4 linked regions of the Homo sapiens genome follow. The protein of the gene in region 2 interacts with the protein of the main gene of each other region in a pairwise test. Each region holds a gene or a part of one and is shown on either strand. Other genes may lie near its edges. The genes, in order: EFHC1, EIF4ENIF1, TXLNA and SPRED1.

The links.
Region 1: the proteins of EIF4ENIF1 (region 2) and EFHC1 interact in binary tests that used the Homo sapiens proteins (3 or more experiments, as listed by UniProt).
Region 3: the proteins of EIF4ENIF1 (region 2) and TXLNA interact in binary tests that used the Homo sapiens proteins (3 or more experiments, as listed by UniProt).
Region 4: the proteins of EIF4ENIF1 (region 2) and SPRED1 interact in binary tests that used the Homo sapiens proteins (3 or more experiments, as listed by UniProt).

What each region holds. Positions count from the first base shown.
Region 1 is NC_000006.12:52,423,323-52,430,346, reverse strand, and holds part of EFHC1 (EF-hand domain-containing protein 1), read right to left. Parts: intron 6,661-7,024; exon of another isoform or gene 6,539-6,660; coding exon of another isoform or gene 6,533-6,538; intron 6,402-6,532; coding exon 6,180-6,401; intron 1-6,179. UniProt on the Homo sapiens protein: Microtubule inner protein (MIP) part of the dynein-decorated doublet microtubules (DMTs) in cilia axoneme, which is required for motile cilia beating.
Region 2 is NC_000022.11:31,451,837-31,458,860, reverse strand, and holds part of EIF4ENIF1 (eukaryotic translation initiation factor 4E transporter), read left to right. Parts: intron 1-210; coding exon 211-386; intron 387-2,873; coding exon 2,874-3,009; intron 3,010-3,545; coding exon 3,546-3,725; intron 3,726-4,484; coding exon 4,485-4,717; intron 4,718-7,024. UniProt on the Homo sapiens protein: EIF4E-binding protein that regulates translation and stability of mRNAs in processing bodies (P-bodies). Plays a key role in P-bodies to coordinate the storage of translationally inactive mRNAs in the cytoplasm and prevent their degradation.
Region 3 is NC_000001.11:32,174,924-32,182,676, forward strand, and holds the start of TXLNA (alpha-taxilin), read left to right. Parts: upstream 1-4,751; 5' UTR 4,752-4,853; intron 4,854-5,141; exon of another isoform or gene 5,142-5,390; 5' UTR 5,391-5,422; coding exon 5,423-5,591; intron 5,592-6,318; coding exon 6,319-6,654; coding exon of another isoform or gene 6,655-6,753; intron 6,754-7,753. UniProt on the Homo sapiens protein: May be involved in intracellular vesicle traffic and potentially in calcium-dependent exocytosis in neuroendocrine cells.
Region 4 is NC_000015.10:38,248,708-38,255,849, forward strand, and holds the start of SPRED1 (sprouty-related, EVH1 domain-containing protein 1), read left to right. Parts: upstream 1-4,128; 5' UTR 4,129-4,478; coding exon 4,479-4,510; intron 4,511-6,077; exon of another isoform or gene 6,078-6,196; intron 6,197-7,142. UniProt on the Homo sapiens protein: Tyrosine kinase substrate that inhibits growth-factor-mediated activation of MAP kinase. Negatively regulates hematopoiesis of bone marrow.

The sequences.
Region 1 (7,024 bases), on a different chromosome or scaffold from region 2:
GACCCACAGCCAACATAATGCTGAATGGGGAAAAGTTGAAAGCATTCCCTCTGAGAACTGGGACAACATAAGGATGCCCACTCTCTCCACTCCTCTTCAGCACAGTACTAGAAGAAGTCCTAGGCAGAGCAATCAGACAACAGAAAGAAATAAAGGTCATCCAAATAGGTAAAGAAGTCAAACTGTCACTGTTCACTGATGATATGATTGTTTACCTGGAAAATCCTAAAGACTCCTCCAGAAAGCTCCTAGAACTGATAAAAGAATTCAGCGAAGTTTCTGGATACAAAATTAATATACACATATCAGTAGCTCTTCTTTACACCAACAGCGACCAAGCTGAGAATCAAATCAAGAACTCAACCCCTTTTACAATAGCTGAAAAACAAACAAACAAACAAAAACTTAGAAATATACATAACCAAGGAGGTGAAAGACCTCTACAAGGAAAACTACAAAACACTGCTGAAAGAAATAACAGATGACACAAATAATGAAACAAATAATGGAAACACATTCCATGCTGATAGGGTGGGAATCAACATTGTGAAAATGACCATACTGCCAAAAGCAATCTAAAAATTCAATGCAATTCCCATCAAAATACCACTATCATTCTTCACAGAATTAGAAAAAACAATCCTAAACTTCATATAGAACCTAAAAAGAGCCCGCATAGCCAAAGCAAGAATAAGCAAAAAGAATAAACCTGGAGGCATCACACTACCTGATTTCAAACTATACTATAAGACCATAGTTACCAAAACAGCATGGTACTGGTATAAAAATAGGCACATAGACCAATGGAATAGAACAGAGAGCCCAGAAATAAAGCCAAATACTTACAGCCAACTGATCTTTGACAAAGCAAACAAAAACATAAAGTGAGGAAAGGACACCCTATTCAACAAATTGTGCTGGGATAATTGGCAAGCCACAAGTAGGAGAATAAAACTGGATCCTCATCTCTCACCTTATATAAAAATCAACTCAAGATGGATCAAGGACTTAAATCTAAGACCTGAAACTATAAAAATTCTAGAAAATAACATTGGAAAACCTCTTCTAGACATTGGCTTAGGCAAGGGTTTCATGACCAAGAACCCAAAAGCAAATGCAATAAAAACAAAGATATATAGCTGGGACTTAATTAACCTAAAGAGCTTTTTCACGGCAAAAGGAACAGTCAACAGAGTAAACAGACAACCCACAGAGTGGGAAAAAATCTTCATAATCTATACATCTGACAAAAGATTAATATCCAGAATTTACAATGAACTCAAACAAATTAGCAAGGAAAAACAAAGAAGCCCATCAAAAAGTGGGCTAAGGACATGAATAGACAATTCTCAAAAGAAGATATACAAATGGCCAACAAACATATGAAAAAATGTTCAACATCACTAATGATCAGGGAAATGTAAATCAAAACCACAATGTGATATCATCTTAGTCCTGCAAGAATGGCCATAATCAAAACATCATAAAATATTAGATGTTGGTGTGGATGCAATGAACTGGGAACTGCTGGTGGGAATGTAAACTAGTACAACCACTATGGAAGATTCCTTAAAGAACTAAAAGTGTGAAGATTCCTCAAAGAACTAAAAGTAGAACCACCATTTGATCCAGCAATCCCACTACTGGGTATCTACCCATTGGAAAAGAACTCATCATACAAAAAAGATACTTGTACATGCATGTTTATAGCAGCACAATTTGCAACTGCAAAAATATGGAACCAACCCAAATACCCATCAATCAATAAGTGGACAAAGAAAATGTGATATATATGATGGAATACTATTTAGCCATAAAAAGGAATGAATTAATAGCATTCACAGTGACTTGGATGAGACTGGAGACTATTATTCTAAGTGAAGTAACTCAGGAATAGAAAACCAAACATTGTATGTTCTCACTCATAAGTGGTAGCTAAGGTATGAGGATGCAAAGGCATAAGAATGACACAATGAACTTTGGGGACTCAGGGGGAAAGGGTGGGAAGGGGGTGAGGGATAAAAGACTACAAATTGGGGGCACTGTATACTGCCTGGGTGATGGGTGCACCAAAATCTCACAAATCACCACTATAGAACTTACTCATGTAACCAAACACGACCTGTTCCCCAGTAACCTATGGAAATAAAAAAAATTGTTTTTAAAGTAGTGGGATAACATCAGCTTTCCCAGGTAGAATAAGAACTTGATTGTTACGTAGAAAGAAAAGAAAAATTATATTTAAATACTGTGTTTAAAAATATACTTTTCATGGAATTTTATAGCAGGCTGGGCTCCTGATTATCATGTATTCTAACCTTCTGAGTTTATAGACGAGGAAATTAGAGATTGTGACTACAAGGTCACAATGTTAGCTGGTAGGAGACCCAGAATTAGAATCCAGGTCTTCTAACTCCCAGGAAGTGCTCAGAATGCCACAATAAACATAAAAATATTTGTATTTACTTCAAGATGAAGGGGGGAAATGCTGCATAAATATTTTCATATCACACACAATTATAAAAAGCCAAGTCACATTTTTAATTTTACATTATTATAAGCATATATGGTACGTGTTTGACTTGCCAATTTTCAGCAGTGACACAGACAAGAAATAAATTTTGTTAATTATTCATGTCATTTTAGAACTGATATTTATTGAGCACTAAATATATAATAAACTATATAAGTCCTTACCTTCATGAAGTATACACTCAGGTGGGACAGATAAACACTAAACAAATCAGCAACACAAATTATAATATAGTGCTGCAAAGGGGAAAAAAAAAAAAGAGAGGGAAGTGATATAGAAAAATGAGGAGGAACTGCCATAGCAGAGTGGCCAGGAAAAGCCTCACTGAAAGGAAAGATGGAGTCAGCCACTTAAGGATGGTGGGGAAGCTATTTCAGATAGGAGAAATGCCATGTACAAAAAGGCCCTGAATTGGAATTTTCAAATGCTGCCATTTCAAGGAAATCAGTAAAAATAAATCCAATGTATTGAAACATGATAGGTGAGAAAAAGGACCCAAGATGAGGCTGGGGAGAGAGCAGGGAGGGCCAGCTCCAGTAGGGCTGTGAGGAACCTGTAGAGTTGGATCTTTATAGATGATAGGGAAGCCATGGAAGTGTTTCAGTCAGTATGTGACATAATCTGATTTTCAAAAAATAAGCCTGGCTGCTCTGTGGAAAATAAATTTATGGTAATAGTGAGGATGAAAATAAGTAAATGAATTAGTTACATATTTTAGAAGCAGAAACAATAGAACTTGCTAATAGATTAGATGTGGATTGTGAGGGGAAAGAAGAATGAAAGATGACTTTCATGTCACAGTGAGGTGAATGGTGGTAATGTTTACTGTATTGGTTAAGAAAGCCTGATGGCATTTTCCCAGAAAAATGACATAATCAGAGCTGAACTCTAGAGAATAAACAAGGCAGCATACCTGTTATAAGCATAAGGACTAGGAATGAGACTAAAACAACAGTTAGGTAGTCATTTGGCTTGTCTGAACTATGATAGTGGCAGAGGAAATGAAAGTGAGAGATATTTGACTTGGCAACTCATTAAGTGTGGAGGATAAAGGAGAGAAAAAGCCAAAGATGGCTCAGGTTTCAAGCTTGGATTACCTAGTGGAACCACACAGGGAAAGCAGATCTATGGGAAAAGGTGAGGGATAGAGATAAGTTAGAGACATACAGAACTTGAGGTACCAACAGTTCATCCAGGTGAAGATATCCCATGGGCCAGGGGGATACAGATCTGGAGTCTCAATGATGTCAGAGTTGGAACTAAATAGTGACATTCTCTACGGTGAGGTGACGGTTGAAATCACGAAAGTGGGTGAGATCTCAAGAAAATTATATAAAGAATGAGATAGAGCCTTGAAAATACTTGTAAGTTAAGAATTGAAAAGAGGAAGGGAGGCTAAAGAATAAGCAACCACATAGAAAGAAGGAGGAAAATGAGAGTCATGGAGGCAAAAGAAGAGCACAGTTTCAAGAAGGGAGGAAGGGTCAACAGTGTCAGATGGCATAAACAAGCCAAAGACAATGCTGGCAAAGTAAACCTCTCTAGATCTGGTAAAAGGACAGCACTGGCTACCTAGGAGAAAGTATTCTGGGGCTGTGGGTAGGGAGAAGTCAGATTGTAAGTGATTTGACAGTCAAGTGAGAAACAAAGTTATCTTGCTTAAAGGCATCACAAGGTATTATAGAAAGAGGACAGGATGATATGACTCTAGCTAGAGAAGCAGTCACTAGAGTGTCTGAAATAGAAATAATATGAAACTTGAAGATGAAAAAGATGAAAGAAGAACATCAGAAATAAAGAGCTGGAAGTCAGTCTGGGAAACACAATATAGTAGGTGATGCTGGAATTATACAGGAGCAAGGGGAAAAGATGAGGGCACTTGGAATAGATGTCCTGGTCTTTATTACCTAAGTAAGAAATGAAGTTATATTCTGTCTATGAGGAACAGTCCTAAGAATTTCCAAAATATAGACAAATATGTTGGCTATTATGTGGACCTCTGGGTATTAGAGGTCCTTCATTTAAAATTAGAACCTTCATTTAATTCAGAGAAACCATAATTCCCTTATTATAAACAAACAAACTTAGTTTCAAAGTCATGCATTTAGCTTCTCTCTACCCCATTATCTATGCTAAGGCTCATTTATCTAGAAATTGTGATGATCCAAGTAAAATGAATTGGAAAATAAAAATAATATTTTTATGTGCACTATCCTTAAAGAAATGAATTATGAATATTAAATAAGTACAAATTAAGTAACAACAATTAGTGTAAAATAACATAGAAAACAAAAAATAGGAAGCCTATTTCCTACTCAAGCGCAATTTCTCCTCTGAATTTTACTAATACTTTCTTACGACATATATCACTTTATCACCTTCTACTTTATAACAGTTACTTACTATTCTTTTCAGTAAAAATTAAACATACCAGGATTCATATCTTGGTAATTATTTAGTGCCTATCCCACTTCTCTCTTGTATTTTCAGCCCTCTCCCTTCTCTGCTGATTTTGCAATGTCTGTCAAAGCCACAAATAAACAAAAGAAACAAGCAAAAGGAAAAGATACATCCAATTATATAAATCATACTGTTTAGTGGATGTTTAGGTTCGGCCTATGAATGCATATGTGAATGTGTCCCTATAAATGAGTTAAGTGGGGAAGAGGAAATGATACAGATTCTAGTTGAGAGACTGAAATTGTTTAAAAATAAGTGACTATCATGTAAATGGCATAGCTCCTCCCCAGCCTCTAGCTTACAACAGGTACTCAATAAAAGTTGGCTGGCTGGATGAAAATGTTATAGACATTTAACAGGAATAATAAAATAAAAATTAAGACAAGAAAAGAAACAGACTAAGAGTAAATTAAGAAAGCTAACTTATCAAAACTGATCAGTACTTCTCAGAACCAGTTACACATAAAGCTCATCTGGAAATTAGAACTGATGAGGGTTGGAATAACGTAACTTTCTTAAAAATCTCGCCAGTGATTCTGCTACATGGTCAGGGCTAGGGCTACTTCACTTTAGTGAAAAGAGGAGGCTCATTGACAAGGAAAAACAAGAATGATGTGGTAATGTCAATAGATGGAAATGAGGAAACTCACATTGCAAAAACATAAAGATAAATGAGAAACAAACAAAAATGTTATACCACCCATTGGTTATGTAATATCAAACATGAAATGTTCCCTGAAAACCAAAAACTTATGGAGACTGCCTTGCAGAAAACTGACAATAGATGGAGTCATTGTTTTCATAATGATATTCTGCATCTCATGAAGATTAGATATGTCACCATTACAGAATACAGTTACCTTTAAAAAGTGGAGAACACACGGCTGATAAACATAGAATATAAATTCAAGAATTCAGAATTATAGCCAACTTTTCTTTAACTGCATTTGGAAAATAGTCTGGTGAAGTCTACAGGGAACTACTTTACTCCCTGTAATCAGCTTCCTGACTAAAGAAAGCCTCTTTTTAGCCTGAGTTCAGCTGTCCATGACTAAGGGTTAAGGCATCTGAACAATTTTCTCCTCAGAGCCCTTTGGAAATTCTGTGGTTTACTGTTTTAACTTTTTTGCAAGCAGTTGGCTCTCAGACCCTAATTCAAGGGGTACCCTAAAATTCCAGATGATACCTTTTTGTCAAAGGCCACATGCGCAGGAATAAAATCCGCAGGTGGGGCTTGTTTAGGTTGGCCATAAGTTAAGACTGGTGCCTTACTGGCCAACTCATCCAGCTCAGCCTGGGACAGCTGGTTGAACTGGAGCCGGTCTCCGCCTATCCCAACTGTTGGACGTCGAACAATTGCATAGCCGTTCCTGTAGCTCAGCGTCTGACTTCTGTGGAAGGCTGTTTTCTGAAGAAGAAAAGAATGTGTCATTAATAACATTAGACAAATATTTGTTAGGTAAAAAAAAAACTAACTTTTAAAAATATAACTTGAATCTTTGCTTATAAGCATCACAAAACTTACATCAAGAAGCTTACCAACATTAAGGCTGGGCATGGTGGCTCGTGCCTATAATCCCAGAACTCTGGGAGGCTGAAGAGGGAGAATCACTTCAGCCCCAGAGTTCGAGACCAGCCTGGGCAACAAGATGCTGTCTCTACAAAAACTAAAAAAAAAAAAAAAAAAAAAAAAAAATTAGCTGGGTGTGGTGGCTTGTGCCTATTATAGTCGGCTGAGGTGGAAGGATCACTTGAGCCTGGGAGGTCCAAGCTGCAATAAGCTATGATTGAACCACTGCACTCCAGCCTGGGCAACAGTGAGACTCTGTCTCAAAAAAACAAAACAAAACAAAAGCTTACCTACATTAAAAGATTCTGTATTTTAAGTTAAAACACTTGAACAAGAACAAGGAGCGAAGTAGCCACCTAAGCTTAAAGTAAAATTTAAAGCTGTGCTCTGTAATGCCCAATTTAACTACCAATTCACCTTGCATGAGAGATTAAAAGAGTATCTCATCTATACTCTTAAGT
Region 2 (7,024 bases):
ATTGGTATTCTAGCTTTATTAAGGCTTTTTTCCTTTTCTGCCTCCCGTAGAAGGGGGACTGTTTTATTCTTGCAAGTACAGTACCTGCACGAGAAGTCTGCTTTTTAAGTCATGTGTGGCTCTTCTACATGTATACTGATGGCTGAAGCCACAGAGGGACACTGGAGTGATTTACTTATCAGACGGTTTTTGTCCTGGTTTTGCTTTCAGGTATAGTAGAGTGCAATGGAGGAGTGGCCGAAGAGGATGAAGTGGAGGTCATCCTTGCACAGGAGCCTGCGGCTGATCAGGAAGTGCCAAGGGATGCTGTCTTGCCTGAGCAGTCCCCAGGAGACTTTGACTTTAATGAGTTCTTTAACCTTGATAAGGTGCCATGCTTGGCTTCGGTGAGTGTAGCAGCACACTTAAAAAATGTGTGGTTAAATTTGACCTGAGTATTTAAGACATCGGTTTGAAAGTGTTGTTTTGCTAGATGCTTTTGGGGTTTTTGGCTTTTATTCTTACATATTTAAATTTTTGTTGGCTTTGTTTTGAGAGGCTTAATGGATAATATGAGATTTTTGTACCAGTTAACTCTTTTTTAAGCTGGTGGTGTTAGACTAAAAATTCTTTTTTTGTTGTTTTTTTTTTTTTGAGTTGGAATCTTACTCTGTCACCCAGGCTGAAGTGCAGTGGCACGATCTTGGCTCATTGCAACCTCCGTCTCCTGGGTTCAAGCGATTCTTCTGCCTCAGCCTCCTGAGTAGTTGGGATCACAGGTGTGTGCCACCATGCCCAGCTAATTTTTGTATTTTTAGTAGAGATGGGGTTTCACTATGTTGGCCAGACGGGTCTTGAACTCCTGACCTTGTGATCCTCCTGTCTTGGTCTCCCAAAGTGCTGGGATTACAGGCGTGAGCCACCGCACCTGGCTTTTTAAAGTTATTTTTAGAATTCCTGTTTATCACTAAGATGCTTATATTTTGGATACACTCCCCAATTTTTCACAGTGATGTATCATGCTTATCTTATATTTTAATTAATACAAAATTAGTGCACTTAAAAGTCAGCATTATTTAAGGTATGAGCATCTACAGGTGGAATGTGATTGAAATTGTCTAGATAATTCCTCTGAAAATAGAAATTCTGGAAACAATAATTAGGGTCTTGAATTAAAATCCCTTCAAAAGAAGTATATTGTGGCTTAATTTGGGTATGGATTATGAAAACATTCTTCCAGATAAGAACAAAGAATAAATCTAAGCTTCCCCTGCTTAACTTTGGAAACTGTGGGTTCCAGATTTCAAATAAAACAGTCACTAATTCTGTCATCCATGTACCAGTTTTTGAAAAAGCATGTTTTCTGTTTATCAGTGGGATTGACGTGAAAGTATATGACTTATTTTCAAGGATATGTCTGATTTTTGGATAGATGTTTGCTCTATCTTGTCTTTTCTAAATATTGATAAGAATACTGCAAAAAATCAATTTGGATATTTGACTGAATTTATGGTATGATTTGAATTGAAAAATTTTTTAAATGCTTAAATCTAGTTTTTAAGAAAGATTGGCACTATTTCATAATTTCTACCAAAGCAATTTATTGTTCATAGTGTGTTATTTAATTGTCCTTATTAAATGTAAACTATGGAGGTTGGATTTGGAAACAGAAAACACCTGAAAACTCTCTATTAATCTCAAACAGAAATTAGAGATCAGTTGAAATTTCATCTTCCACAATCATACTTTTTCTAAACTTTGACTTGGAATTACAGTCTTTATGAGCTCTGCTTTTTTAGCCTTTGGCTTCTGAAACTCTCAAGATTGAATTTCATAATGTTCATTACAACCTTGAAACCACTAAGTTTGAAGCAATGGTTTTCTTTCATCAGTTCCCCATACTTGATATTTAGTTGAAGGTCACTCATCAGCTTGTCAGTGGAATGCTGTGGCATTGACACTGTTCTCTGAGAACATTTGGTAGTACGTGGATTTACTCCTGAGGCAAAGGATAGAAACCCAAAAACCTTTTTGTAGCATAGAGGCTTTGCTTTATATTCTTAGAAAGTAGTGGTGGTTCATGCCTGTAATCCCAGCACTTTGGGAGGCCAAGGCAGGTGGATCATTTGAGGTCAGAAGTTCGAGACAAGCCTGGCCAACATGGTAAAAACCCATCTCTACTAAAAATAAAATTAAAAATAGCCAGGCATATGGTGGCGTATGCCTGTAGTCCCAGCTACTCGAGAGCCTGAGGCATAAGAATCACTTGAACCTGGGAGGCAGAGGTTGCAGTGAGCCAAGATTGCACCCCTGCACTTCAGCCTGGGCAACAGAGCGAGACTGTCTTAAAAAAATAGTAGACCGGGTGTGGTGGCTCATGCTTGTAATCCCAGCACTTTGGGAGGCCAAGGCGGGCGGATCACAAGGTCAGGAGATCGAGACCATCCTGGCTAACACGGTAAAACCCCGTCTCTACTAAAAATACAAAAAATTAGCCGGGCGTGGTGGCAGGCGCCTGTAGTCCCAGCTACTCAGGAGGCTGAGGCAGGAGAATGGTGTGAACCCGGGAGGCGGAGCTTGCAGTGAGCCGAGATCGTGCCACTGCACTCCAGCCTGGGTGACAGAGCGAGACTCTGTCTCAAAAAAAAAAAAAAAAAAGTAATAAAAAATAAAAAAGGAAAGTAAGTAGATGGTTATACTCAAGTTTGGGTTATTCAGAAATTACCCAGGATGGAGGAAGAAAAAGGTGTTCAAATTCCTAGGTTCTGAGAGTATTTATCTTCAGGTCACGAGCATGAAAGGAAGTTTCAAAGTAAGTGACCCTTTCATAAGATTTAAACCTTCTTGTCCTTTTTCATCTAGAAACTATTAGTTTTTATTGTCTTTTTCTTCAGATGATAGAAGATGTTTTGGGAGAAGGGTCAGTCTCTGCCAGTCGGTTCAGTAGGTGGTTCTCTAACCCGAGCAGATCAGGAAGCCGATCCAGCAGTCTTGGGTCAACACCACATGAAGAGCTAGAGAGACTTGCAGGTAAAATGGCTTCAGATTCTGCCCTTGAAGGTAAACCTGGGTTTTTCCCTGATATGGTTCATTTTATCTTCATTAGTCAGGAGTCAATTAGGGTCAAAGGGTCTCTGGACAACTGAAAAGCCTTCAATTTGTGTCCTTTTAATATTGTTGAAGGGGCCGGGTGCAGTGGCTCACGCCTGTAATCCCAGCACTTTGGGAGGCCAAGGCAGGCAGATCACAAGGTTAGGAGTTTGAGACCAGCCTGGCCAACATGGTGAAACCCCCATCTCTACTAAAAATACAAAAATCAGCCAGGCGTGGTGGCGGGCATCTGTAGTCCCAGCTACTCAGGAGGCTGAGGCAGGAGAATCGCTTGAAACTGGCAGGCGGAGGTTGCAGTGAGCCGAGATTGCGCCACTGCACTCCAGCCTGGGCGAAAAAGCGAAACTCCATCTCAAAGAAAAAAAAAAAAAAAAAGAAAGAAAGAAAAATACTGTCGAAGGCATGTTTCTTTACTGGAACAGATTAATTTTGAGTATGTTTATTTGCAATATCAGGTCTGGAGCAAGCCATCCTCTCTCCTGGACAGAACTCGGGGAATTACTTTGCTCCTATACCATTGGAAGACCATGCTGAAAATAAAGTGGATATTTTAGAAATGCTACAGAAAGCCAAAGTGGATTTGAAACCTCTTCTTTCCAGCCTTTCTGCAAATAAAGAAAAACTTAAAGAAAGCTGTAAGTGTTTATGAATATCTGTTTTAGATATCTGAAAAGGTCTAGATGTTCAGTCTTCAGGCAGTTGGGTCTAACATAACCTCTGTTTCATAAAAAGTCAAATATATATTGGGTTTTTGTTTAATGTTCTTTTTTAAAAACTCATTTCATCAAACAATACCACCTCTTTGAGAATCTCACAGTGGGTCATGAGCCCTATGAGAACTTTTCCTGTAAGTTCTTACCTAGGGTCTGGTTGTAATAATCCAGTGAATGTTGAAAACAAACTCCAGTGAATGTTTTATTCCTCCAGAGCATAACTTACCATTTCCTCACAAATCTGCCCTAGTCTTCCATGTTCTTGCTTAGGCTATAAATTCTCAACATAAAAACTTAGTGATATAATGACCACGGTGCAGGCAGCAATCTTGGCAATGTTGGGCTATCTGGGATTCTTGTCCCAGGTAACAAGTCTCCCAGAAGACTCATATCCTTCTGCAGGATGCACAGCAGGAGCTTGTCAAGTTTTAAAGAATAGCACTTCATAGTTGTGGTCCCCCAGTTTCTAGCATCTAAACATTTTAGGTTTAGTTTATGCCATCTCTTAGTACACAATTTGATTTTAAGTGTTATTAGTTTATTTTTGGTGTCAGTCTTTTCTGACAGTCTCATCTCAATTTTGAAATAAATTATTTTCATCTTATCTGTCATACTAGCCAAAGAGAATTCCTACCAGATATCTCTTTGCTTGATTTAACCTGGACGTTCTCAACTTCTCAGCACATTCAGGGGTTGTGCTTTCAGTGGAGGAGGTAGAAGCAGGTCTGAAGGGCTTGAAGGTTGACCAGCAAGTGAAGAATTCAACTCCCTTCATGGCAGAACACCTAGAAGAGACCTTGAGTGCCGTAACCAACAATCGACAACTGAAGAAAGACGGAGACATGACTGCGTTCAACAAGCTAGTGAGCACAATGAAGGCAAGTGGGACTTTGCCTTCTCAGCCCAAAGTCAGCGTAAGTATCTGACACAAACCCCCCACCCTTTTCTCCTTTTTTTTTCTTCTTTTTCCCACCACAATAAAAGGATTTTTAAAAAGGTATTCTGAGTAAGTTGGAAATTCTTTAGTAGTCATTTGGTCCTTGATGCTTTTGTGTGTTCCTTAATTATTGATATGCTATTTGTTACTGGAAAAAGCAGGCTTGTGGTTAATTTATATGTATTGTGGGTGACAGTATAAAGATTAAAAGATTCAGTCTTAATGGTAATGCCTGTATAACTTTAAGTCACTGCTAAAATGAGGTATAAAACTATCTTTTTGGATGAACTCCAGAGACAATTTTCTTGTTATTCAGCTACTTAAGTTCATATTCTTTACCATATTTGTATAGTAAAATCTTTATTCACATCTTCTAATTATTCCCAGATACCAGGGATTACCTGCATTCTTGCAGTCATACAAATCATTTGTAAAGTATCTAAGATGGGGCTGAGCACAGTGGCTCACGCGTGTAATCCCAGCACTTTGGGAGGCTGAGGCAGGCAGATCACCTGAAGTCAGGAGTTTGAGACCAGCCTGGCCAACATGGTGAAACGCCATCTCTACTAAAAATAAAAATTAGCCAGGCGTGGGGGCATGCGCCTGTAATCTCAGCTACTTGGGAGGCCAAGACAAGAGAACTGCTTGAACCTGGGAAATGAAAGTTGCAGTGAGCCGAGGTCACGCCACTGCACTCCAGGCTGGGCAACAGAGTGAGACTGTCTCCAAAAAAAAAAAAAAAAAGTAAGATGGGTTTGTCAGGATAATTACATTCTGTCAATTTACTAATGGAAAAAGTTGTGGCTCCAAGTTAAAAACAAAACTTGTAGGCATGAAGTTAGGTTACAAGGTGACACAACTGCATATCACCTTGTAAATGCAAATGTTTATAATATACTGGTTCTTTGTCCTAACAATTTTGAGAGGGTAGTTCTTACCCATAGCCTATGTGTTAATATCACTATCTCTTGATACAAACTAATGTGGAAGCAGGGTAGATATGAATAATAAAAACATAAACATGGACTTATTCTAGTTGCTAAGTTATAGCAAATTTACCAAATTGAGTTTTCTCTCTTTTTTTCCTGTTCCCTGCTTGCCTGGGAACTTACCAGTTAGCCAAGATGCAAGTAGCAATAGCTGTTTGAATCATTATGTCTTATACCAAAAGAAAGCAACTGACTTTTAGCATTCCTTATCTGACCAATAGGACAGACAGAGGTTCCATTATTCCTTAGTGCCAGGACTGACCTACACTTGAAAGGAGGCACCTCAGATAGGTAGACTGACTTCTTTGTATCTGACCACACCATACCAGTTGCAGGAGAATGTCCCTGTAAAACTGCTTTAGAGTTACTTTTATACAAAGAATTATTAGATACAAATGCTTTCAAATGAAGATCAGACTGAAAGATGGTAGACTATCCTATTTTCCTTTCTCGTTACATTTGTGTCTTGGTGATTGGGTGCTGACTGCAATGGTGTGGTTCATATCTTATAATTAGCTTCTTTCTTTTGGTGTGAGCAACTAAAAATATGGAAGGGGGCATTCAGCAGTTTACCTGATGTTTTTCCACATTTTATTGCAGATATGATTCTAGGATTTGATATTAACACAATTTACTCGAGTTGTAAGGGCAGTTGGTTTGATGTTGGGGTTTTAGCACTCAGAAGTGTATCTGGTTTTAGCTGAGCAAATGAGCCTCAAACACCTGCCAAACGGATGGATGACACATTCAAGTGGCTAGGCAAAGGCTAAGACAAACTCAGCTAGCAGGAAAGAATACAACAAGGAAAGTAATGGAGTAAGAATAGCAGGTGTTATCTCAAAATATTGCTCAATTTGCATGTTGTTAAGTCATGGTTTACTTTTTGAATTCGGTGTCTTTAATTACTACTGCTGTGTATGTTTTGTATACTATTTCTGATCTGCCTCCATCCATTTAGGTTGTCATATTGGTTCATCCAAAAATAATACATGCTGGTTCAATCTAAATTCTGTTTTAAATTATAGATTCTATCCTCCAAGTATAATAAGCCATGCAGTATAAAGTTGTCTATTTGTTTTTATTAGATGGAAGTAAATGACTCTTAAAGAGATTACTTATAAAATCATCTGCCTTTAGTCCCAGTTCCAAAATCAACAATAAAATACTTGGGTATTCTTGAGCTATTTGTCATGCCTAGACACTGCTTTGGACTTTGACAGCTCCATCTAGTGGAAGGGAAACTACACCAGAGAAAGCACTTCACACAGAGCTAAATGGGCATAGGGATGTCCTGA
Region 3 (7,753 bases), on a different chromosome or scaffold from region 2:
ACCTTGTCCAGTATGTTTTCTGTTTGAGCTTTTTCATTCTTTTGTTAAGCCAACAAGTTGAGAATTTGGCCCTGCTGGGATCCATGTAGTGGGCACTAGCTGCTCTTTGGCCAAGGCCTTCATAAATGATTCAGTCTCTCATTATCTGTCCTCTAGCCCCACACCCTGATTTAGACCGTGGCAAAGGAAGAACTTGAGGTCAAGACCAACCAAATCTGTGAATTAAAGCTGTTATTTTTTTCTCTGCAAGGGCGCTTTGCTTCAGGTCTGGGCTATGTGCAGAACCTAAGCAGGCTGTGAGAGTTAGAAGAGGCAGTATTACATGTTAGGCCCAGAACACCATGGGAAAAGGTTTATGTAGTGTATCTTAGTGGCCTGCCTAGCTGCCTCTGGGCCAGGCTGACTTCTGATGTCCACATTAGCTCGTACCTGAACCCTGTTGCTGAATGCCAGCCCTGTTCTCCTGTAACTATTATATACGCCATGGCCTGGGGGGCATTGAAGGAAGTAAGCTCTCAGAGATCCTAACACTGGCTGGGAACCTCTGACTCAGAGCATGTCTTTAAAGAGTCCACATCTGGCCAGGCGCGGTGGCACATGCCTGTAATCCCAGCACTTTGGGAGGCCGAGGCGGGTGGATCACGAGGTCAGGAGTTTGAGACCAGCCTGGCAACATAGTGAAACCCCATCTCTAATAAAAATACAAAAAATTAGCTGGGCGTGGTGGCAGGCGCCTGTAATCCCAGCTACTTGGGAGGCTGAGACAGGAGAATCACTTGAACCCAGGAGGCGGAGGTTGCAGTGAGCCAAGATCATGCCACTGCACTCCAGCTTGGGTGACAGTGCGAGACTCCATCTCAAAAAAAAAAAAAAAAAAAAAATCCACATCTTCAGCTGGGCGCGGTGGCTCATGCCTGTAATCCTAGCACTTTGGGAGGCTGAGGCGGGCAGATCACTTGAGGTTAGGGGTTCAAAACCAGCCTGACCAACATAGTAAAACCCCGTCCCTACAAAAATAAAAAAATAAAAAAAATAAGCCAGGTGTGGTGGTGGGCACCTGTGATCTCAGCTACGTGGGAGGCTGAGGCAGGAGAATCTCTTGAACCTAGGAGGCAGAGGTTGCAGTGAGCCAAGATTGTGCCAGCCTGGGCGACAGGGTGAGGCTCTTGTCTCAAAAAAAAAAGTCCACATCTTCATGAACCCTCAGACTCTGGAGTTGGGTGTCGGCTTTTTTAGCCAGCTTTTGTGGGAATTGCCTTTGACCTATTAAAGAAGGAAAGTGGGTAATGGAGTCCCAGCCACTCAAGAGACTGGATATCCCCCGAGAATGGCTTGGGTTACCAGCTATGGACCCTTGGAAGATGAATCTAATCCTTCTCACTGGTTTTTCTTTGCAAATTCATTTGCTTTTATTTTTCTAATAACAATAAACTCTATTTTCCATGTTCTCAGGGCCCCTGGGTAGACAGACACAGCTTGATTTCAGAGCAGACATAGGCGAAGAAAACATGGCATTGAGTGTGCTGAGTCCAGACAAATGTTATTTATATACACATCCAAATTTGAAGAGAAAATGTATTTCTTTAGGTTTCAAACACTGTAATAGATATAAAGCAAAAATAAAAACCTGTTGCAAAGTTCTAAATTGTCTTCTTTGGCTTGGAGTGACCCTAGACTGGATTTGGGGGAAGAGAATGAGGAGGTGTTTAAATTTGTAGCTTAACAGTGGAAATAAGAGTTGTACCAACCTGCACCTGCTCTAAAGTTTTTTTCATCGACTTTATTGAAATATAATTGACATACAATAAACTGTACATATTTAAAGTATATACACGTTGATAAATTGAAACACATATGCACCCATAAAACAACCACAAGATAGTGAATATATCTATGACCTTCATAAGCCGTAAGCTTCCCGCTTGAGAATCCCTCCTTTCTGCCCCACCTCCAGCAACCACTGATCTGTGGCTGTCACTGTAGTTTAGTTTGCATTTTCTAGAGTTTCTCTAAATGATTTTGACTTAGTTTCATCAGCACCACTCTACAGCCCTTTGAACCTTTTTTTTTTTTTTGAAACGGAGTTTTTTATTCTTGGCATCCAGGCTGGAGTACAATGGCGTGATCTCGGTTCACTGCAACCTCTGCCTCCTGGGTTCAAGCGATTCTCCTGCCTCAGCCTCCCAAATAGCTGGGATTACAGGTGCCCGCCACCACGCCCAGCTAATTTTTGTATTTTTAGTAGAGACGGGGTTTCACGTTGGCCAGGCTGGTCTTGAACTCTTGACCTCAGGTGATCCGCCTGCCTCCGCCTCCCAAAGTGCTGGGATTACAGGCATGAGCCATCGTGCCCAGCCTGAACCTCTTAAGATCAAATAGTTCACAGACTCCTCCCTTCAGTTTAGATAATTCCTAAAGCAGAGATTACAGACAAGCAGCCAGAAAGTTGATTGAACCCACAGGAAGGTTTTGCTTGGCAGAGCGTGTTTAAGTTTGAATTAGTTGCCAACATTTTTTTTTTAAATCAAATGTCTGTCTTGAAAAAGACTGTCCTGAAGTCTCCATTTTTAAAAAGAGGCCAAGCACTGTGGCTCATGCCTGTAATCCCAACCCTTTGGGAGGCCAAGGTAGGAGGATCACTTGAGGCCAGGAGTTCAAGACCAGCCTGGGCAGCAAAGTGAGATCTGTCTCTACAAAAAAATTTAAAAGTTAGCTGGCTGTGGTGGCACATACCTGTAATCCTAGCTACTTGGGAGGCTGGGGCAAGGGGATCACTTGAGTCCAGGTGGTCGAGTCTGCAGTGAGCTATTATGATCACTGCACTCCAGCCCCAGCAGCTGAGTAAAACCTGTCTAAAAAACAAAAATACAATCTGGCCCTACCCGGCCTGAGTTTCTGCTTGCTAACAATGTGCAAGAGCTGCTGTATTTTACTGCAATCACCACCTCTCCCTCACTCTGGCAGGTGCTAATATTGTTGCTATATATTGTTTATAGCAAAGGAGAAAGTAACTTGTTAACCTATGTTTCTGTCAATTATTCTTGCCTGTTCTCATTACCCAACTGGCCCCTCTAGGCTATTGTTGACCCTTCTACTACATCCTCTATCCCTCACCCCATGCATACATTTTTATGTTCTTTATCTCACCTAGAACACCCTTGTTATATGGAAATCTATCAAGGCCTGATTTATATGGTGCCTTCTCAAGAGATTTCCAGAATGCTTTTCTAGAAATAATCAGGGCCTTGGTTTCAGGACATCTAGATTCCAACCTTTCTGAGCCTCAGTTCCATCATTATACTAAAAATTGAATATCTCTTATCCAACATGCTTGGGACCAGAAGTGTTTCCAATTTGGGATTTTCTCAAATTTTACCGGTTGAGCTTCCCCAATCTGAAAATCTGAAATCCAACATGCACGGCTCTGAAGTCTTTCACTGAGCCTTTGGGGGAAATATTTAACATCCTAACAGCCCTAAACCAACGCTCAATTAGCACAACAGTTTACAATCTTCTCTACCCACAGCCTGATGCGAGGCTCTGGGACTAGACTATTTAGCCAACAGTTCTTGCAAAATTAACTGACTTATAAGTAAATAGTAATTTCAACACCTCACTGCTAATGCTGTAACAACTCTGCAGACCTAGGGAGCAAGTACGGTTTGCAGAGCACTGGGAAGGCTCTGAAGTGACCTTTGAACTGGGCCTCAAAAAATTTTGGGTTTGGCAAAAGTCAAATCTCTTAGGCTTCAAATTCCAGGCACAAGGATTGTTGGGTTTGATTTCATTATCCAGAAGCAATGGGGATACAGAATTGTGATCTCATGTGTAGGGAACTGTGGGGGTTTTTTCTACTTTAACCCCAGTGAGACTTTGTAGAGTGTGGGGTAGAGAAAAGGCTCATGAATATGCCTGAAGCCTAACTCAGCACCTTTCTGAGGAACTGACTGCCAAAATGGTAATGGAGAGGGGAAAATATGACCTACTTTCACAAGTTACCTTGACTGCCTCAGGGAAACCTGCTGTGGTAGTGTTTCTTCTGGGTGAAAGACCAGGTAATTACCTGGGTGCTGGTCTCAGACTTACCAGTTTTGAATCCCTGTTTTAACCACTCACTATCGATATGACCTTGGATAAGTTACCTAACCTTTCTCTTACTGTCCTTTTCCGTAAAATGGGGATAACAGATAGTAGTTATTTCTATGAGTGGTTATGAGAACCAAGCTATTAGATAGCGGGAAAGCACACAGTAAGCGTTCAAGGAACTGCTATTGTTATTAAAAGCCTCCTTTGGAAGAAGGACATTGAGGCCCAGAGAGAGAACAGAACGTCCAGCCACACAGCAAATCCGTGATGAAGTTGGGACTGGAGTATGGGTCTCCTGAGTCTCAGCCCAGGACTCTATCCCTCTTCCCGAGTCCTCGGAGTTCCCGGATGGAGTCACATTTGTTCACGGCCAGGGAGGAAGGTTTGATGGAGGCCTGCAGGAAACAACAGCCAGGCGCAAGGCTTTGGGAGTTGAAGCATAGCTTCTGCGAGATAGAAACAAGGTTGACATGGGCACTCGTGCAGAATGACGGGCTCCTTTTGGACTCCCAGGACTACAGTCCCTTATGCACCTTGGGATCTGCGGCTAGCCCCTGCGTAAAGAGGGACGCGTAGTCTTTTCCCTGCCCCGCCCTGCCGGGGCGCCCGCCTCCGAGGCCGCCCTCGCTTCGTCCTTCCCAGCAAGCTCCGCGCCGGCGCCGGCTATTGATTGGCTGAGGCGGGAGCAGGCGGCTGGCCGGCAGCAGTTACTCGGGGTTTCCGGTGCGAGGCCAGAGGTGGGGAAGCCATCGGACGTCGGCGGTGAGGTACGTGCAGCGGCGGCCGGTGGGCGAGACTATTTGAGAGTGTGCGGGCCGGGATGTTCTCGGCCTGTGGGGAAATCACGCCAACTCCCCGCGTGGGCCGGGGGCTGTCTGGGGATATGCGCATGCGCGGGCGTGCCTCGCGGCTTGAGGGCGCGCGGGGCGTGGGTGGCTGCGCGCGCGGGGGGCGCACGTGGGGCCTGAGGGGCGGGGGCGGTGCCGGGAGTCCCGCCACGTCAGTCTCCGGCCCTGAGCCAATCCCGCGCCCGGCCTGCCGCGAGGGGGCCGGTTGTGCCGGGAAGTGGCTCCAGGGAGAAGAGGCCTCTTCCCTCACCCGCTGTGGGAGCTGCGCCCCGAAAGCCTGCCCCGGCACGTCGGGCTCTCCTGACCCGCCAAGACCAGAGAGCCGTTGGCGCCCTCCGCCCGGGCCTGCCGGTCCGTTTATTTTAAGAAGCTTTGTGCGCCTGCTGTGGGGATTTCTGATCCAGGCTGCGAAGAATTTCGAAGTCTGGAAAATAGCAACTGTGTTTGTTTCTAAAGGATCTTCTCCTGACCCAGCATCGCTCATCACAATGAAGAACCAAGACAAAAAGAACGGGGCTGCCAAACAATCCAATCCAAAAAGCAGCCCAGGACAACCGGAAGCAGGACCCGAGGGAGCCCAGGAGCGGCCCAGCCAGGCGGCTCCTGCAGTAGAAGCAGAAGGTCCCGGCAGCAGCCAGGCTCCTCGGAAGCCGGAGGGTGTGTGCCAGCTCTGCGTTGCCAGCGGGCAGGGGGAGGAGCTGTGGGGTCGGCCTCGCTTCTGGACTTACAGGCCGAGGCCAGGTTGTCCGGGAGGAGGAGATGTAGAATGAGAGGACAGTGCTGGGGGCCGCGGTCCCCCCTGCGCTCTGGCGAGTTGGCGGAGCTGCCCCCTCTAAGCACAGGAACAGAGTTCTGGAGAGAAGCTCCGACGGGATTAAGTCAGGTGGCAGCCAAACGAGGCACCCAGTCAGGAAATCCAGGTCCCGTTAGAAACACCTCAGCCACCAGCAGCTAACTGCCCTTCCTGTTTGAGGCATTTCTAGAATGATCTGAATGGCAAGAAATGGTTTTGTGGGGGGGAAGGAGATGGACTAGAAGTTGCTCCGTGCCATCCCTGTGTGCTGATGCTTTACATACTTTTATGATCTAACAAATATGTTCGGGTGGTAGTGAGAAATAGTTGTGTCATTTTACAAGTAAACAGACTTAAAGAAGTTAGGCAACGATTACTATAATTTCTTGATTTAAAAGATGTTTCGAATCTAAATTCTGACAGGAACTAGATTTGCTGAATGATACTCCATTCTTGCTTCTCAGTTTCCATAAAAAAAAAAGTTAGGCAACATTTAACTCAAACTGATGAGTTTGGCTGGGCCTGAAAAATCCCAACCAGTGGTATAATCGTCTTCTTTCTCACTCTACCCCTCATCCTCTCCTGCTGTAGGGGCTCAAGCCAGAACGGCTCAGTCTGGGGCCCTTCGTGATGTCTCTGAGGAGCTGAGCCGCCAACTGGAAGACATACTGAGCACATACTGTGTGGACAATAACCAGGGGGGCCCCGGCGAGGATGGGGCACAGGGTGAGCCGGCTGAACCCGAAGATGCAGAGAAGTCCCGGACCTATGTGGCAAGGAATGGGGAGCCTGAACCAACTCCAGTAGTCAATGGAGAGAAGGAACCCTCCAAGGGGGATCCAAACACAGAAGAGATCCGGCAGAGTGACGAGGTCGGAGACCGAGACCATCGAAGGCCACAGGAGAAGAAAAAAGCCAAGGGTTTGGGTGAGCAGAGGGCGGCTCTTTGTGAAGCTGGTGAGGAGAGGGAGTTTGGACTTGACGTTCTCTGGGCCAGTCTGTTCTGCCAGGATTCAAAGGAAAACGGTACTTCTCAGAGCAGCAAGTCACTCTAGTCTAATCAAAGCCAGGGATGTGGGGGCCACGGCATAGAGAGATGCAGGAGTTACCAGCACAAAGCCTTCTGGGTTTTGGAGCAACTGGAGCTTGGCATGGGACCTGTTCTCTCTTTGAGAAAATGGAGACGGGAGGCTAGGGTAGGCTCCTGTGCCAGCCAGTACTACCTGCTGTGTGACCTTGGGTGTGTCCCTTCTCCTCTCTGGGTCTTAGTTTATATTTCTCTTTACAGTAAGAAAATTAGACTAGGCCAGAGTTGAAAACCCAAATATCTGCATAAGCTGGGCTGGCCATGGGGCCACCTGAAGATGGAGGCTTTACTGCTTCCTGATTAGTTGCTCTCAGCTAGCCAACTGAGAGCAGGCAAAACTACAGGCTGGGTGCAGTCAGGCTTTTTTTTTTTTTTTTTTTTTTTAAATAAAGAAAAGCCAGAAATCTAGAGTTATGTGAGAACTCTAGATTTTTTCATAGTTAGCAGCTAAAATGGTAAGAGCCAAACAAAACCCATCCGTGGGTTGGATTTGGCACACATGCCTGCGAATTGCAGTCTCCATGCTGATCTCTTGGGCCCTTCTGGGGAGGCAGAGGGAAGGCTCCCTGACTCAGTCACAGGCAATGGGGAATAGGCAGTGACAGTCATTTTACAGCAGGGTATGTATGTTTAAGAGTCTAGGCCGGGTGTGGTGGCTCACGCCTGTAATTGCAGCACTTTGGGAGGCCGAGGCGGGTGGATCACCTGAGGGTCAGGAGTTCGAGAACAGCCTGGCCAACATGATGAAATCCCGTCTCTACTAAAAATACAAAAATTAGCTGGACATGCTGGCACACGCCTGTAATCCCAGCTACTTGGGAGGCTGAGGCAGGAGAATGGCTTGAACCCGGGAGGCAGAGGTTGCAGTGAACTGAGATTGTGCCACTACATCCAGCCTGGGTGACAAGAGTGAAACTCTGTCTCAAAAAAAAAAAAAAA
Region 4 (7,142 bases), on a different chromosome or scaffold from region 2:
TGTGATAACCAGCTATTGTGACTAGCTTCCTTCCCACAGGGCTACCTAGAAAACACAACTGAGCAAATATAAGTATCTCCTTTCTTGCTGAGCCCGAATGTGGCCATAGAATTCTTCTTGATTAGTACCAACTGAATGGAGTTGGAGCTTAAGACAAAACTGTGATCTGTATTTAGCTTCTCACATCTGGCTGGATCCCCTTTCCTAACTGAACTATCCCTCTGGCCTTGACCAGTGTCTATCTAAGCTTATGATATACCACTGGCCACCCTTTTTTGTGTTTAGCTGGAACACAGCTTTCAATCACGGATGTGCTGGGAGACAGGATGACAAAAATGGTTTTAAGGAAAGGGGGAGTAGATGATGAAGGACTAAAAAGGGCCAAGCACCTGGCATACTTACAAAAGCATGGCCCCATCATAGACCTAGTGATCACAATTTCTGAGCTGGGGTCTAGGAATCTGCATTTTAAGTACTTGCAGTGTATTTTAAAAAAATTATTATAGAACATTTTAAATTATAAAATAGTAAAGAGAATGTATTCATCATTAATCTATAACCAATCTTGTTTCATCTATATCCTTACCCATTCTTCCTACTCCTCACCCCAGTGGATTATTCTGAAGCATAACGTTTCATCTGTAAATATTTTAGTACATATCTCTGAAAGGTAAGGACTTGAAGAAAATGTTGCCATAAACCAATACTTAAAAAAAATTCCTTGTTTTCATCAAATCTCCAGTTAATGTTCAAATCTCTCCAGTTGTCCCAAATTTAAAAATATTTAAGTCACGATCCAAATAAGATCTCACACATTGTCTTTGGTTGGTACGTCTCTTTACTCTTAAGGTCCAGACACCCGGATAGATAAGTCGAGGCCTCCTGAGTATAGAGCAGCCAGTGATTGACAGTCAGACTAGAAGATCCCTTGGCTCTGAGCAGTAGCACCATTTCTGACTGCTTCAGAGTAGAAGACTCTGAGCTCTGCTAAACCAAAGCAAATTTTTAAAAAGTTGGTGAGATCTTTAACAACTGGGTGAGAGAACTACAAATGCGTTGTTGAAAAAAGGGCACAAAAGTGTTCTAGAAATGGCATAGGACCACCAAAGGCTGTGGATGGTTTGCTGACTATGTCTTGGTCGTGGAGTTGAGAGCAATCTTTAAAGCATTAATTTGGGCTATTGATCACATCTTGCTCCCTTTATGTAAGCAGTGTGTGGTGTATGTGGAATGTGGAAATAGCCAGCACAGTGCCTGGCTCATGACAACCAAGATTCTTCCAAAGACTATACTGACAATTTCCTTGATACACTAGAACCTCAAACAGATGCAAATCTTCAAAAGATAAAGGCCTTTGCAAATGACCGACTTTCCTTCTATTTACTTAATCATAATAACTGTGATAGTTTCATTTATTAATGGCTTACTAAGGACCAGGCCATGTGTCTAGCAACTGATAGTTATTTGTTGAATGCATGAACAAGAATATTGAATGCTTTACATTTAATCCTCAGAGCATCTGCCACTATTTTGCCATGAAGTTTATTACTATCTCTGACAAAACAGTAGTAAGAACTAGGACTTATTCTTACTGTGAATTCTTAATCTGTTCTAAGTAACTCTGTATATTATTATCTCGTTCATCAGCACAACAGCTGTGTAAGTTAAGTACTATTATCCCCATTTTATGCAGGCCCAGAGTTTCAGTAACTTGGATAAGAACACAGATTATAACTGATGGTACTTGACTGAAACTTGAGCAGCCTAACTGGTTAACAGTAGTCCTGGAAGGGGAAGAGGCCAGTATCAACACTCCCATGTATAAGTTCTTGGCAAGAATAAGTTCAAAAAGGCAGGTTTAGAGGTCATGTCTAGCACAGACCATCATCAACATTGCCCCTCTCTTTCTCAAGAGTAAGGACAATGCTGCTGCTGAGGCAGGAATCAAGTTACATAAAGAGACCTCAGAAATCAATGGGATGGTTTTTTGGGTACATTGACTGGTTTAGCGCCTCTGTTCATTCGTCAAACATTTATTAAGCACCTGCTACGTGCAAAACACTGTTAACAGTGCACTACTGTGCACGCTCATTCTCAGAACAACAATCCTGCGATTCCTGGAGAGGGATGGTAGAAGAGGAGTGCTGCCTTGTTAACGAGGTTCTCCCAACTTCTTTTTTTCCTCGGGAATTGTTCTCTTTAATGTGGCACCAGCGGCAACCTTCATTCTTAGGTCGCACAAATCTGAGAAGGAAGAGAAAAACATTGCACGCAGGGCGAGACTTATATCTGGGAAGATGCGTCAGGAACTTGGGAGCACTTGGGATTCAGTCCCCTAAGGTGGTTCATGTACAGGCTGGTTTTCTAAGTGGAGAACAGATAATAGAATTTGCAGAGCCAGGAGCTCTGACTCCTGTGGCTGGGCTGACCTTAGGCTCCAGCCCGCAACCCCAGTAGGTTTCTGTGCAAAAATCTTTTGAGATGAATGCATACTTTGTCTTCTAACAATGCATTCGTGACAGCTGTCTATCCAATCGGTCCGCCTCCGTTCAGAGCAGTTCGTGCCACAGAAGCATCTCCTGCGCTATAGTTATGCAACCTCACTCGCAGCGGGAGTTATTTCCTCCGTTCTGGCTGCGCCAGATTCATGTAACACGCCTACCCTGGGCTTCAATGGAAGTCGTTCTCCATTAACAATCACTCCAGCTTTCCGAGATGAATGCCCTGATAGCATACCCCTTGCGCAGTAAGAATCCAGGCAGCGAGGCGAGGTGTTAAAACACACATACATTCTCATATTCTCTCTCTCTCTCTCTCACACACACACACACACACACACACACACACATACACTTCGTGCATGCAGCTAGGGGACTGCAGCAGTGCAACCAGGGGGACAGCAGGAGGAGCTCTCTTTGCAGTCCCTGCTTCTAACCCCCACTAACTAAAGATGAACTCATGCCAGTTCCATTCTTTGCTCTGCAAAGAAAACACACACACACACACACACACACACACACACACACACACACACACGGCAGAAGAGAGTAGCCTCCAGATTTCCCCTCTGAGCACACTGTCTTTCTAGCCTCTTCGTTCAAGCAACCCGGATATTCCAAGCAGAGTAACGGGGAGTAACGCGCCACAACAATGCAACCTCCCTAGCAGCTCCCCTCGCAGCTCCCACCCCCGCCCCCTTTCGCGGCGTGCCAAGAGTTTGGAGCGCGCGCACGCACACCGAGCACGGTGCAGGGAGGATATCCCTCCGCCTCCCTCCCCCTTTCTCCGCTAAGTGGCTCGACAACGATTTGGGAAATGAAGGGAGGAGGGAACTACTTTCCTGAAACTTGCTATGCTGCACATGACTTCGAGTTGCAGTGATTCGCCCGGAGGCCGCGGCTTTTAGTCCTACCCACACACCCTCACAGCCTGGGCACCCCGCTCGGCAGCCCCACCCCGCGCCCGCTCTGGCCTCCGGGGAAAGCGGGCGGCCGGGAGAAGTCGCGAGGGACTACTTCGCCTCCTTCTCTCGCGGGCGCCCCCGGTTCGGGCAGCGGCTGCGGCGGCGGAAGGAGCGGGCGGCGTGAGCGCTTCCGCCGCCCCCCTCGCGGCTCCCCTCTCTCGGGCGTGAGGAGCTGGCCCGCTGAGCTGCTGGTGGGCACTGGCTGGCGGGGAACCTGCAGCCGCTCTTGTCCTCTCCCGCCGCTTCTCGGGATCCTGCCCCCCGGACCCGGGCCCGCCCGCTCTTCTCCGGCCGGGTGGGAACGATCGGTTTGCCTGCCCCTCGCCTCACACGCTCCCCGCCGCCCCCTCCACCCCCCTGAGGAGGAGTCCCGGCTGGAGCGTGTCTGGAGGAATCCGCCGCCGCGGGGCCCCTAGCCCTGCTCTGCCGGCGCCTGAGGACCGACCCAGACGCCGCCGGGGGTTGAGGGGCAGCCGGCGGCGAGGCGGGAGATGGTGGGGTGGGCTCCGGCAGGACCGCGCCGCCGCTGCCCGGAGCCTGGGCTCGGCACCCCCCCGCCGGCCCCCACCGAGCGGAGCTCTGCTTCCTCCTCGCCGCATCCCTGAGGGAAGCGCCGCCTCTGCTCCCGGGTTCTCCGCCCGCCGACTCCTTCCTGGCCGGACCCCGCTGCGCTCCACCCCAGTGGCTGGAGGAGCAGCTCTCCAGTCAGCCTTTGCAGCCCCTCTCTTTTTCCCTTTCCACCGGGCCTCCTCGGATCCCTTGGCTGGGCACTGAGGCGGGGGAAGAGGCTGGGGTCGCCACGGCGGAGGTTGCTGCCGCCACCCCCCTGCGGGGGTGGCCGGGGTTCCCGGCTGGGGGGGTACCGTTCTGGGTGAGGCATCCACCATGGTGAGGCCCCTGTGCCGCTGCCCCCGCGCCCCCCCGGCCGCCGCTGCCTCCTGCCCCTCGGTGCTGCTGTTGCTCCCCCGCCTGCTGTTGCTCCTCCATCTCCAGATCGGATCACGGTGAGGGAAAGATGAGCGAGGAGACGGCGACTTCTGACAACGAGTAAGCGCCTCATTGATCTCGATTGCTAATCCCCCTCCCCCTATCCGCCCTCGGCTCTCCCCCAGACCCATCCGAAACTTGGGTGCCGGAAAGCTTGCGACCCTGGAGAGTTCGGTGCATCTTCTGGAGATAGCTGATTTCTTTAGCCATTTTTAGTGGCAGCACCCCTCCCCATCCTCCCACATTTAGCTGCTTTCTTTTGGGGTAGGGGATTAAGTGTTGGGAGAGGATGGCAATTGTACGTCTATGAGAGGGAATAATGTGGATGGATGGAAGTGGAGTAGAAACTACCCCTTTGCCTGTGAGACCCCTGTCCCGTCCTTTTTCACTCACATACCAGTCACCATACCTTCAGTATCCATCCTACTTCCTTTATAGCTGTTTCACTTGGAAACTAATGTGTGGGAGCACCTCCTGCAGCAAACTGCTCTTGAATCTTAATTCGATGAGTCAGTGACTCTTAAATACCGATTAAGCCTTCACCCTCTCCCCCCTCCCCCTTTTAAACTTATGACCTGTAAGATTCTTGTAAAAAATAGGGTTAGGGAAACATTTTTAGAATTTAATAGGATTAAGGACACCTGGAGTGTGGGCGATGTTGAGCTAGAGTTTACCTTTGTGAATATTGGACGTGTCTTCAGGAACGGAGAAGAATTTTGAATGCTAATTTTTACCTTTCAGCTATGTGAAAACACATGATTTACGTTGATGTAACCGAATTTACATTGCTGAATATGTTGGTGATTTCATTAACTTTTAGAGCATTCCGGTTTAAGTTTTAGCTTATTTGGGCTTTCTCCTTGCTTTCCAAACGAAATACTTCGTCTTTTAAATGTTTTGCTTTAACGTGACAGCTGCGTGGAGAAATAATGGTTGGCAACACTTTTCTATTGAGAAGGGATTTAATTCCAAGCAGAATATTAGCATCCGTTTTCTTGTAATTAAGTTCAACTTTTGTTTATCTTCGGAGGGTTGGAAAGAGTTAAGTGAGTTAGGACTTAGTCATTTGGATGCATTCCTTTAAATACAGTGCATTACTAAAGTCAGACCTTTTTGAAATAACTTTTTAAAGTCTGTACCGAGTCCTGTTTAACGTAAAATAGCTAGAGAAAGGCCAAACAACATTTCCTCCTCCCTTACTCCCTCCCCACCCCAAAACACACGCTTCTGCTGAGCGGGTGTAGAAGGAGGTACATTGCTGCAGTGTCAGTGCAGTGTAGAAGCAGAAGTGGCAGCCATGTTCTGTCTCTTTTTGTGAATCGCCCTCATTTGCATAGCACACTCTTCATTCATAAAAAAAATAATTAAACATCCATCACCTTGGACATCTTGAAAGGATTTCCCAAGAAAAAAAATTCGCGGCTTATTTGTCTGTGTGTAGATTTTTGAGTTCAGAAGGTAAGAAGAATGTGAAATTTTAGGTTAAATTTAAAAACATACGCACACACAAACAACTACCCCTGTTCTGAGAATGTTGACACAGTTATGTGGGAAATATCAGTTCGGGGAGGTGCTGGGATCACGTGATCGCCTCCATTCATAAAATACCTGGCTGTCCATTCAGAGTGCAGTACAGTCTCTCCCTGCCTTCTGCAGATTAGACCTACTTTGAGGGAGATCAAGAAGTCTATCTCAGATAATGGTTATTTAGGAGAAGAACTGCTAAAAATGCTGAACCGAATGACGGTAACTTTTATTGGTATCTTTCAAAAAGTTTGGATTAAAAATGTTAAGTTTTCTTTTAGAGATGGGAAAAGACTTCTTACCAGTTTAATTTTTTTCTTAAAGCAGTGAATATCTCCTTGTTTCCTTCTGGTTGCAGCTAATAAAAAAAGCAGATGATGGAATGTGAATTAACACAAGTAAAATATATTTTTTCTAAATGGCCATTTTTTTAAATACTTGCCATAAATAAATTGAGACAACAGGTTTTTTTGTATAGTGATAGTGCGTTCCACTGCTATTACAGTAAATTGAGAAAATACTCCCAGTGATTTAATCCCCAAGATGTTGATATTTGAAACACCGATGGCAATCTTCAGTGAGAGGATTGCTTTAAATATTTTTTTTTCATCTAAATGTACTTAGTATGGGACAACTTGGAAATTATCTCACTCACCCAGACTTTTAAAATCGTTTTTTCACAAATTTATCCTGCTTTATTAATAAATTATTCCCTAGGAGCTTTGTAATACTTTTTAAGTTTGGGCAGGGCGATAATAATATTTAGCATAATATTTTGGTAAACTCTTCATGGGAACAAAATCTTGGGGGTTTTACTTTAAAAAACTCTATTATATTAGAAAATAATGTGTTCATCTGATAATCAGTTTTACTAGAGCCAGCATTGTTTGCTTGTGCATTAGATAAACCACAGAGTGAACTTATTTGGAATGTAGCTTTTAATATAGTAATTTATGTCTCATCTTTAATAGGTGAACCGTTTTGAAATGGAAATTTATTATTTATAGTCATTATGAAGAAAGATACGTATCATGGCAGAAGCCATTAAGGCCTTAGCACAGTTTAAAACTGCCCTGTAACATGGATTTTATTTGGGCCTTACATTTTTTTCCCTTTTCTCTTTTTTAAAGCCATTGCTCATAGGGATTTAATTACAGTAGGGACTATT